Regions from separate parts of the Homo sapiens genome. Here region 2 is linked to region 1. Evidence: fine-mapped expression QTL. Tissue or cell type: whole blood. Region 1 holds a variant in brackets; the other region holds the start of a gene. All regions are shown on one strand. Distances are between the middles of the regions.

Region 1 (5,000 bases):
ACAGTCTTCAGGATGTAAGCATGGAGCTTACTAAAATGCTAAGGCCGTGGTGTGCAAGGTGAGACTGGGTGAAGCTCACTTTGTCTGCAGCCCTGGGCACCCTACCCTCACCCCGCTGCTCTTCCTCCTAGCAACCTGCATGCCCCTCCTCCTAGGGCTTGGAGAGTTCTTCCCCAGGGGCATGGACTTTTTTTTTTTTTTTTTTTTTTTTTTTTTTTTTTTTTGAGATGGCGTTTCATGCTTGTTGCCCAGGCTGCAGTGTAGTGGAATGATCTCGGCTCACTGCAACCTCCACCTCCCAGGTTCAAGCAATTCTCCTGCCTCAGCCTCTGGAGTAGCTGGGCTTACAGGTGCATGCCACCATGCCTGGCTAAGTTTTGTATTTTTAGTAGAGACGGGGTTTCTCCATGTCTCGAACTCTTGACCTCAGGCGATCCACCCGCCTTGGCATCCCAAAGTGCTGGGATTACAGGCGTGAGTCACCACATGGGCATGGACTTTTATGCAGATACATCATCCTTCCATCTCTTGGAAGAGCACCTCACTCCCGGGGAAGTCAACAAAAACTAAGGGGATTGCTGGCCTCGCCTTCTCGAGTCACCCCCCTACTGTGTTCCAGACGCACTGCAGCAGCCGAGAACAGAAGCGAGGCAGGGGCCCCTCTCACCAATGACGCTGCAAAGCAGGCGCAGGCTGGTGGTGTCTCCCTCCCCGCTGTCCCTCGGGTTGTCGGTCCAGGAAGGAGGTAGTGGGATCCGAAGCCCAATGGGGCGGTGGAACTTCCGGCGCCGGGGCTCCACGGTGACAATGGGGCTGAATGTGGCCTGGTTGCCCAGGAGCTTAGTGACAAGCTCATCCGGGACAGGCTGGGCCTGTGAAATGACAGAGGCAGGACACTCAGGCCCAAGCAGGAGAGGGGCTAATCAGACGGGAGGCAGCTCCATGCCTGGTGAGAGTGGCCGTCAGTGCACGGGGTCCCGCCCTGCTGTTGGACCACAGAACCGACACGGTGGAGCTTGCCTTCCTGAGCCCTTTCTCCCCTTCTCCTCTGCTTCTTACTCCCAGGGCTGGTGCATCTTTGCTAGCACCACAGTCAACTCCCGGAGGTCATGCGGTTCCTGCATGCTGCACAGACTGGGCCGTGCAGCTTGATGGGTTACCAGGGGTTCTGCAACTTATCAGGGAGCTTCCACCTCACCCCTTCCCACTTAACTCTCCTTTGAGCTTTAAACTCAGATCTCCACTGTGGCATTTCAAAGCACCAGACAAAAGTGTGGGGATGTCCTGGGGAAGAGGGTGGCCTTCCCGGAGGCCTGGAGTTCAGTCCACCCCCAGGACCTGGCGGGGAGGAGGGCTGTCACCTGCAGAGCCAGCTTCACTCTCTTGGTGACGGCATTCTCCGGGAACGTTGCCTGTACCAGGGGCACCAGCTTGCTCTTCAGGGAGCCCCCTTCGGGACCGATGGTGTCGTAGTCCTGGCAGAGCCGTGACATGATCACGAAGTACAGCGGGAAGTCGGTGGTGATGATTCGGCACACCCTCTTCTTCTCTAGCTCCTCCAGGCTCCCCAGCTCTGGAATCACACACACAGGCCACCACCCCGGTCACATCAGGCACAGGTTCAGGACTTCCAGGGGCCCCAGAGTCTCCTTGTCCCCAAGACCCAGTGCACACACCCTCCCCAGGTGCCGGGCGGCATAGTGGCCAGAAGAAGTGGCCAGAAGAAGTGCCCAGGCCCAGAGGCCCAGCAGAGCAGATGCGGCTGCAGGCAGCCGCTGAGCATCCTCTCACACATCCTGGGGACCCAGGGCTTGTCCACACCAGGCCATTCTCAGCCTCTTGGGGCTTCCCAAACTTCAGGTGGCCCTCAAAGACCACCTTTAAGGTGCAACTCAAACCCCTCTTCCGCAAGGAGGGGACCCAGCCCTGGGATCCCCCGCCCCTACCTTCGTCCATCCCGTTGAGGATCTGATCCAGGTAGCTCTCTCCATAGCGGCTCCTGTGCTCCTTCCACACGGAGCCGTTTTCGCTCCTCAGAACCACGAGCTCGCGGTCTCCACGGCCATGGGAGGCAAAGTGCGGGATCTCCACGATTACAGGGCTGAGGCAAGGACACAGTGGTGGTGGGGAGGTGCTCATACAAGGCAGGCAGGGCACAGGGAGGGATGGGGCTGCCGGCTCCCACCCAGATGGATAAGGCACTTCCGCAGCCACGTGGAGGCCCCACCTGCAGGCAGGTCTCTAAGTGGACCAGACCCATGGGGAGGTTCCCCAGGGCTTCCCATGGCCCCGCTTGCTCCCCGCCAGGCCTGCAGTGACAGTGAGGGCAGGACCAGTCTCATTTCATGCGGGCTCTGCTCCTACGACCTAAAGATCCTGTCCTTGCACCTGATTCCAAAAATCCACCTGACATCCCTAGACGGGTGACCTCATCTATCAACTGGCCATAATGACATTTCCTTCAGAGGGACACTTTGAGGACAAAGAAACGTCAACGAGAAAACTTGCTGCTTTGCAAATGGTGGTGACCGCTCTGAGGGGCCAGGAGGGCGGACAGAGGTAGAAGGCAGGGCCTCCTGGTCAGGCCTGTCCCCACAACACACCCATGGTGCCTGAGGGGCAGCAAAGCTCCAGGAGGAGCCCAGGCTGCTTCAAGGGAGTGGAGCACAGGCCTCTGGAGCCGGGTACTTCCCTCGTCCTCAGGGGAAACGGCCAGGGAGGCCGTCTTACTGGGAACTCTCAGTGCATAAAAGGTCAGACCCTCAGGCTTCAGAGTGGCCTTGTCTCTAGTGTCACACAATATTTAAGAGTTGTTTTTTTGGTTTTGCTTTTTATTTTTTACAACGACGGGGTCTTGCTATGTTTTCCAGGCTGGTCTCGAACTCCTGGCCTCAAGCGATGCTCTCACCTCAGCCTCCCAAAGCACTGAGATTACAGGCGTGAGCTATCGTGCCCGACCTGAGATCTGAGAGTTGTAAGCCCTCTCAGGGCTATGGACACCTTCGTGTGTCAGGAAAAGTCAGGGAAAGGGGAGGGGCACCCAGTTCTGTTTCCCCATCAGGACAGATGGAAATGGCGTGGCCTCC[G/A]TGGCACAGGGACAGGGGAGAACACGGGCTGCCCGCGCAAGCTCACCTCAGGAACTGTGCCCCCGTGGGCCCCAGTGCTATGATCCTGCTGGCCAGGCCCTCCTCCTCGGCCAGTGGGGGCGGCGTGCTGAGCTTCTGGGGCTTGACCAGGCGGCAGGTGATGCGGGTGGGCGCTGCGCACGTCCGTGGCGGGATCACCACTCGCAGGCCGTTGTGGCGACTTCCTCTCATGGAACCACCCCGGGCGTCAACCATGAAGCTCACCAGAAACCTAGGAGTGGGGCAGATGCACGTTGGGCTTCTGCATCCCCTCTCGGAGATGGAGACAGGAGTCCCCGAGCCCTGCGCCCGCCACTCACCCTGTATGCACCGGGCTGGCCACCGGGCTGATGTTGTCTGAGGTCTCGGTGGCCGGGCTGCTGGGGATGAGGGAGTCCTCATCATACTCTTTAGATGCCTGAGGAGAGAGAAAGGGTCCTCCTGTCCCACCTCCTCCCGGGCCAGCTGGATGCCGTGCCAGGGCGTGGAGGCTTGGAAGAACCTTGCCGCTAGAAACCAGGTGCCACGTGGAGAAAGTGCTCCCACGGGACCCCACCGCCCTGTCAGACAAGGCCGTCCTGAGGTCTAAAAGGAAGCACGAGCTTCCTCCCACCTCCATGCCTCTCCTTGGCTCAAGACCCTGGGACAGAGCCTTGGAATGGGTGGAGCCAGTCCTCACTGTTCAGTCTGGCTCCAGGCCCCAGGCCCGCTGCACCTGCTGCAGACCCGCCCCCCTTCTCTCCAGCTCTGCCCATGGGGAGCCCTGCCCTCAGCAGGCCAACTTCCTCTAGGGTGGGCACTGCATCCCAGCACCGTGACCGCCTCGCCAGTTAGCTGTGGGCGGACTACCTGCCCTGTGGACATTTGGAGCCCATGAGGTGAACACAACAGACTCCTGCCCTTGTGGGGCTTCCTGCCTCCTCACCTGTGCAACGGGAACTTGCCTTAGGGTAACGCTGCAACTACAGGGATGCCAGGCTGCCCTGGCACAGCCAGCAGCACCTGAACCTAGCCTTGCTGCTCTCTAGATCTTCACATTTGCTTTTCCCCCGGTCCAGAACGTCCTTGTCCATCGCCCTTGTTGATCTAATCCTCTCCACTCCCCACATCTCACCTCCTCCACAGATGCTCCCAGCCACCTTGGGGCTGGTTAGGGCCTCCCTGCTCTGCACTCTGTGAGCACTCACACCACACAGTGGAGCACTCCCCCGCTCTCCCTCCTGGTTCTGTGCTAACTGGGTTCATGCGTCCGAGTCCACTCTTTCTGGTTGGGCCCCGGCTCCCAGGAGGCAGGTGTCCAGCCCTCCTGCCTGAGCCTGTCCGGGGTGCACAGCAGGAATCCAGTAAACATCTGCTGGCTGGAGTTCCTACCCTAGGCCAAGAGTTGAAGACAGTGGGCTGGTCAAGGACCCACTGGTTTCTCACTGCTGCTGTCCTGGGCTGCATCCAAGGACTGCGCCACCACAGGAAAGGGCCCCATCTGACCATCTCTTCCAGACGCCGCCCACCCAGCGCCACCAATGTTGCACCATTATGAGGCGTCCAAGCGTGGAATGCCAGTTGGACAGTGAGTGGCATGTGAGCTATTAGTGCCTATTGTGCTACGTACAGGCCACCCCTCAACAATCACTGTCCCAGGGTTTTCATGCCCTCCATGTGGGGAAACCACAGAGAAGGAGCTTCTCACCTGCTCCTGCTCTTCTGACCTGATCACCACTGTCTCAGGCATGGCACAGGGAATCCTGGGGATGGCTGGAGATTCCACCCTGCGTGCCAAGAACACCAGAACATCACAGGGCTGATCCACATGTGCACACAGCTCCTCTTCCTCTTGCCTCCAAGCCTCTCCCTCCGGCTTTCCACTCCAGAGCCTGA
Region 2 (5,000 bases), 100 kb after region 1:
TGGCCAGGCTGGCCTCGAACTCCTGACCTCATGATCCACCTGCCTTGGCCTCCCAAAGTGCTGGGATTACCGGCGTGAGCCACCGTGCCTGGCCGTAAAGGTTGTTAAACAGACCTGGAGGACAAAGGTTTTTAGTCACTTCACCTTTAGAAAACACTCTTATTTTCTCTGTTCATTTTGGCAACACCAACAACTGAAACCCTGCTTTTCTAAATATATTGCAGTTTGATTAATCTCAAAATAAGTCAGCTGGTTTTGCAGAGACACTGGCAGAACCATTTTGGGGTGAGAGGTGGCAACCTGGGTTTAAAAACTATTATAGGCCAGGCGCAGCGGCTCACGCCTGTAATGCCGGCACTTTGGGAGGCTGAAGCGGGTGGATCACCTGAGGTCAGGAGTTCGAGACCAGCCTGGCCAACATGGTGAGACTGAGACTTAAAAATACAAAAATTATCCAAGCATGGTGGCACGCACTTGTAGTCCCAGCTACTCAGGAGGCTGAGGCACGAGGATTGCTTGAATACAGGAGGCAGAGGTTGCAGTGAGCCAACATCACACCACTGCACTCCAGCCTGGGCAACAGAGCGAGACTCTGTCTTAAAAATAATAATAATTATTATTAAATAAATAAATATAAAAACTAATTACAGCTGCTTGAGCCACGAAAAAGAATGAAATCATGTCATTTGTAGCAACGTGGTTGTAACTGGAGGTCATTATGCTAAGTGAAATAAGCGAGGCACAGAAAGACAAATACTGAATGTTCTCAGTCATACATAGGAGCTAAAAAAGTTGATTTCTTGGACCTAGAGAATAGAATAATAGATACCAGAGACCAGGAAGGGTGGGTGGGGGGCAAGAGAATGAAGAGAGATTGGTTATGCGTACAAACATACAGTTAGATAGAAGAAATAAGTTCTGGTGTTTGATAGCAGCTTAGGGTGACTATACTATAATAGCAACAATACCGTGTACATTTCAAAGTTACCAGAAGAGAGGACTTGTAATGATACCAACACGTAAAAATGATAAACATTCAAGTCTATGGACACCCCAAATACCCTGTCTTGGTCAGTACACATTCTATGCATGAAACAAACACTCACATGTATTCCACAAATATGTAAATTATTATATACCAATAACAGAGAAGAAACTAATTATAATTGACCCATAAAGTCAAGGGTGAGTTGAGTCTATGGATCCTGGTTACAATAAACGTCTTCAAGCCTCTGTCCCCTTTGCTAATGTTTTCATAACCGAGTAACTCACTTCAGCCTCACAGCAGACCCATTTCCCAGACAAGAAAACTGAGACACAGAGAAAAGTGGCTTGAGGCTGTAACTTGATTTGTGAAAGAAGGCTAATTTTACCCATTTTTTCCATCGGCCATTCCTTATTCCTGCAAAACACTTGCGTTTGAGTCTGAAGACAGTTCACACATTGCACGGGACACCTGCAGTCACCTGCCTCCTTCCAAAGTTGGCTATGATCAGGTCTCCAAGACTCACCCTGAACCTCTGCCCTAGAGTGGTGCCACAAGAGGAAAAAGACTCTACCAACTTAACCTGAATTGCTTGCCGCTGGTGGAACTAAAGTGGGAGGCCCAAGCTTCCTCTACAGAGCCTCTCTCTCCTTAGAAAAAAAAAAAAAATCAACCAGGAAAGGCAAATTGTACAGATGCCACTAAAAAGAAATTCCCGCTTAGTATTGCTTCCTCTGCACCCAGCGACTTTTAGACAAGCAGAAGACGAAATGCCCTGCCCGCGACTAAACCAGACTCCTTTTCACTTACTACCCTTTCAGCGTGTGTGTGGCCTGATGTCCAACTCTGGGCTCTGAATCCATCACTAAACTAAGAACCGTACCCAACAAAGGACACTGACACATGGCACAGGCTGGCCGTGCTGCCAGGCAGAGATAGGACGGGTTCTATCTACACAGGGAGAACAAGAAGGCTGGAGTGGCCTTGCTAACGCGCCATTATCACTTGAAAAATATCCATGAGAGCCTATCTCCCCAGGCCACGCCGCCGCTCTTTCCCTTCCTTCGTAGACATATTTCTCTCCATGAATTAACAACATAAATTAAAAGAACCGAGCAGGTGTGACCATGAGACCACCGGCCTCCGTGAGTCTTTGAGAAAACAAGCCAAAGTCCCCTTCCAAATGACAGTGACAGCCCCCTAGCCGGGTGGCCCACCCCGCAGCCTGTAATAACACACCTACAAAACGCAGTTTAGCAGACTCAAAGGAAAGCCTCTAAGATCTCAATAGATTTGGACTATAATCCAAAAACCATCCCTCCCCAGCGCTATTGCTGACAGGACATAATTCAGAGACCCAGGTAGTTGGAACTCAATTTGACAGCAAATCTCTGGATGTAAAAAATATGAAACTGGCTTCAGCGAGTAGGGCAGAGTCCACCTGCTGCCTTCAGCTACAAGGTCGATGTGCCGCTATGCTAAGGCAGGGAGCCCACGGGGAGGCGAGGCGGGTGGGGTGTGCAAAGCTGCTCTTGCTCGCGTGCTGCCTACTGGCGCGGCCTGGGTGGCCCCCTCCTGACATCTCCCCGTCCACCCGAGCAGCCGCCCAGTACTCACTTCGCGGAAGCCCACAGAATAGGGCATGCCGGTCTTTCAGCAGGGGCCCGCCGAAGGGCCTTGGGGGCTTGAGGAGGAGCAGCTGGGGCTGGCGGACTCACCGCAGCCTCTGCGGGGCCTGTGACGTGCGGGCCAGGCCCCCGAGGGCCTTATCGGCCCCAGAGGCGCTTGCTGTCGGGCCGGGCGCTCCCGGCACGGGCGGGCGGAGGGGTGGCGCCCGCCTGGGGACCGCAGATTACAAGAGCACCTCCTCCCCCAACCCCAGGAGGCCCCGCTCCCCAGGCCTCGGCCGGCGCGGACCCCTGGTTGCCCCGGGGTCGAGAGCAGCCGGGGAGAGCTGAGTTCAGAGCCCAGAGTTGGACATCAGGCCACACGCTGAGAGGGTAGTAAATGAAAGGGAGTCCGGTTTAGTCGCGGGCAGGGCATCTCCTCTTCTGCTTGTCTAAAAGTCGCTGGGTGCAGGGGAAGCAATACTAAGCGGGAATTTCTTTTTAGTGGCATCTACACAATTTGCCTTTCCTGGTTTTTGTTTTGTTTTGTTTTGTTTCCTAAGGAGGGGGAGGCTCTGTAGAGGAAGCTTCGGCCCTGGGTGCCCCTGGGTTGGGAGCAGTCGGGGAGCGCTGAGCCAGGGCGCACGCCCTGTCGGCGCTGCGGGTGTGGGGCGCAGGAGTCCTTCTGGCCGGCCCCTCCGCCCCCCGGGGAGGCTGGAGCTCTCCAAGGCCGGGGAGCCTCCCGAAGCGCGCTGCCCCCTCTGTTCTCCGCGTGCTTTCACTAGGGCCCCATGCTGCTTAGTGGCCGATTTGCAGGGAATCTGGGCACAATCTTAATAACACCAGGGCCAAAAATAACAACGTTCCTGGGAACCGAGGTGAGTCACCGCAAACAGCGGCTAGGAGGGCGTGGGATGGCGCGGGCAGGGGGGCGCCCAGGCGGTCCCGCAGCTGCCAGAAGGTCGGGGCTGCCCACCAGCCAGGCTGGACCATCCCAGGCCAAGCTCCTGCAGGCCTGGCCTAGGAAGCCGCCTTTTGCAACGTCCGCCCGTCCAACAACGGGATGAGATGTCATCTGCCCAGAATGGCTTTATCAGTGAGAACACCATATCCTGGAATGGCAGTTGGTGGCTGGCAGAGGGAACAGGTGACCCCGAGGAGCTGAGCTGCGGGGCCAGGGGCATGGCAGCCTCCCTGGACCCTGGGGGTGGTGCCATTAAGGTGGGGGCTGTCTCCCTCCATGGTTTCCTCTAGGGGTGGGTGTCACCGCTGGGGGCCTCTGGTGCAGTCCTCCCTGAGAAGGGTCTCTCCAGCCTTCCTCACGTGATGCTTGGCCTCCTGCTGGGCCCACGCTGGTCCAGGTCCCCTGACGAGGCCGCCATCTGGCTTTAGAGCTTTCCCGCAGCACCAAACTGGCCTTGCCATGAGGGCACAGCTGCTGCGGAAAGATGCCACCGAGATCAGCTTCATGACCCGTCTGTGTTTTCCACAGCAGCTGGAGCGCACCCCATGGACGCTGGGCCATCTCCCCGGGGACTAGTGCCTGACAGAGCTGACAGAGTTCTAGGCCACATGTGGGCTAGAAGGAACCGCCATGTCTACCACAGCACAGTCCTTAAGCAGGAGCCTTTTGAAGCACTTGGACTCAAAACAATGGCTGTTTGTTGTTGTTGTTGTTGTTGTTTGTTTGTTTTGAGGGAGCCAGAAAGCTAAAAAATGTAAAAGAAGCAGGTCACATTAGACATGATTTCAGACAGCCTCCCCGAAGGACAGATGATCTCACTTGGCAACACATACTGGGCCAGGCTCACTCATGAGGGGGCAGCGTGGCATGCACCCCACTCAGGGGCAAGAATGAAGCTTAAATATTAGCTGACTCAGAACATAGCAAGTGCTCAGTAATGGCTTCTGGAACGAACCCGTGGTTGTCACCAGCAGGAGTGACGAAAGCTAGAAGCCGTTTCACCATCCAAGGAAGAGGAGGAACAATATTTTTCTCTTTGGAGTTCCCACACTCAGAAGAGAGAACACCAGCATATGAACACAGAGTGTCACATGATGTAGGAAACATCCTGTAGGTAGAGAGTATAATTCCAAAGCTTAGGATCCTGCTAGTTCCTTGTGCAGTGCTTCCGGTGGGCAACATGGTGCCTCCCCAGTCCCTCAGGCTTGAGGCGGGCCAGCACAGCTTCTCTGGGAGCCAGGTCATTTCAGAATTTAACCCCAGAACTAGGTCACCCCAGGCAACACAAGGCTCCTCTCCCTTGGATACAGGAAGCGGAGGAAAAGGCCAGGCATGCTCAGGGGCAAACCAACACCCAGGTGAAAGGGAGCTGGGCTGGTTTCGGGGAGCAGCCTGGTTTCAGGGAGCCGGACTCACGATGTGCTTGAGACCCTCAAATTCACCC

Evidence for each region. PIP is the estimated chance that this variant, and not a neighbour inherited with it, causes the effect.
Region 2: ANK1 starts here. The variant in region 1 is fine-mapped to the expression of ANK1 in whole blood (INTERVAL, PIP 0.90).

Annotation. Positions count from the first base shown.
Region 1 is chr8:41,693,231-41,698,230 of GRCh38, forward strand. It overlaps ANK1 (ankyrin 1), which reads right to left. Exons shown (of 43, transcript NM_000037.4): 24 at 4,813-4,891; 25 at 3,446-3,543; 26 at 3,133-3,357; 27 at 1,947-2,101; 28 at 1,362-1,573; 29 at 668-872. Among named protein-coding and RNA genes, the nearest start is that of MIR486-1, 35 kb to the left of the region's middle. The variant G/A (reference allele first, on the strand shown) is at 3,087.
Region 2 is chr8:41,794,910-41,799,909 of GRCh38, forward strand. It overlaps ANK1 (ankyrin 1), which reads right to left and starts at 2,713. Exons shown (of 43, transcript NM_000037.4): 1 at 2,603-2,713. The coding sequence starts at 2,629. LOC105379392 (a long non-coding RNA gene) reads left to right here and starts at 2,869. Exons shown (of 3, transcript XR_949708.3): 1 at 2,869-3,470; 2 at 4,085-5,000. RefSeq lists an enhancer at 3,786-4,985.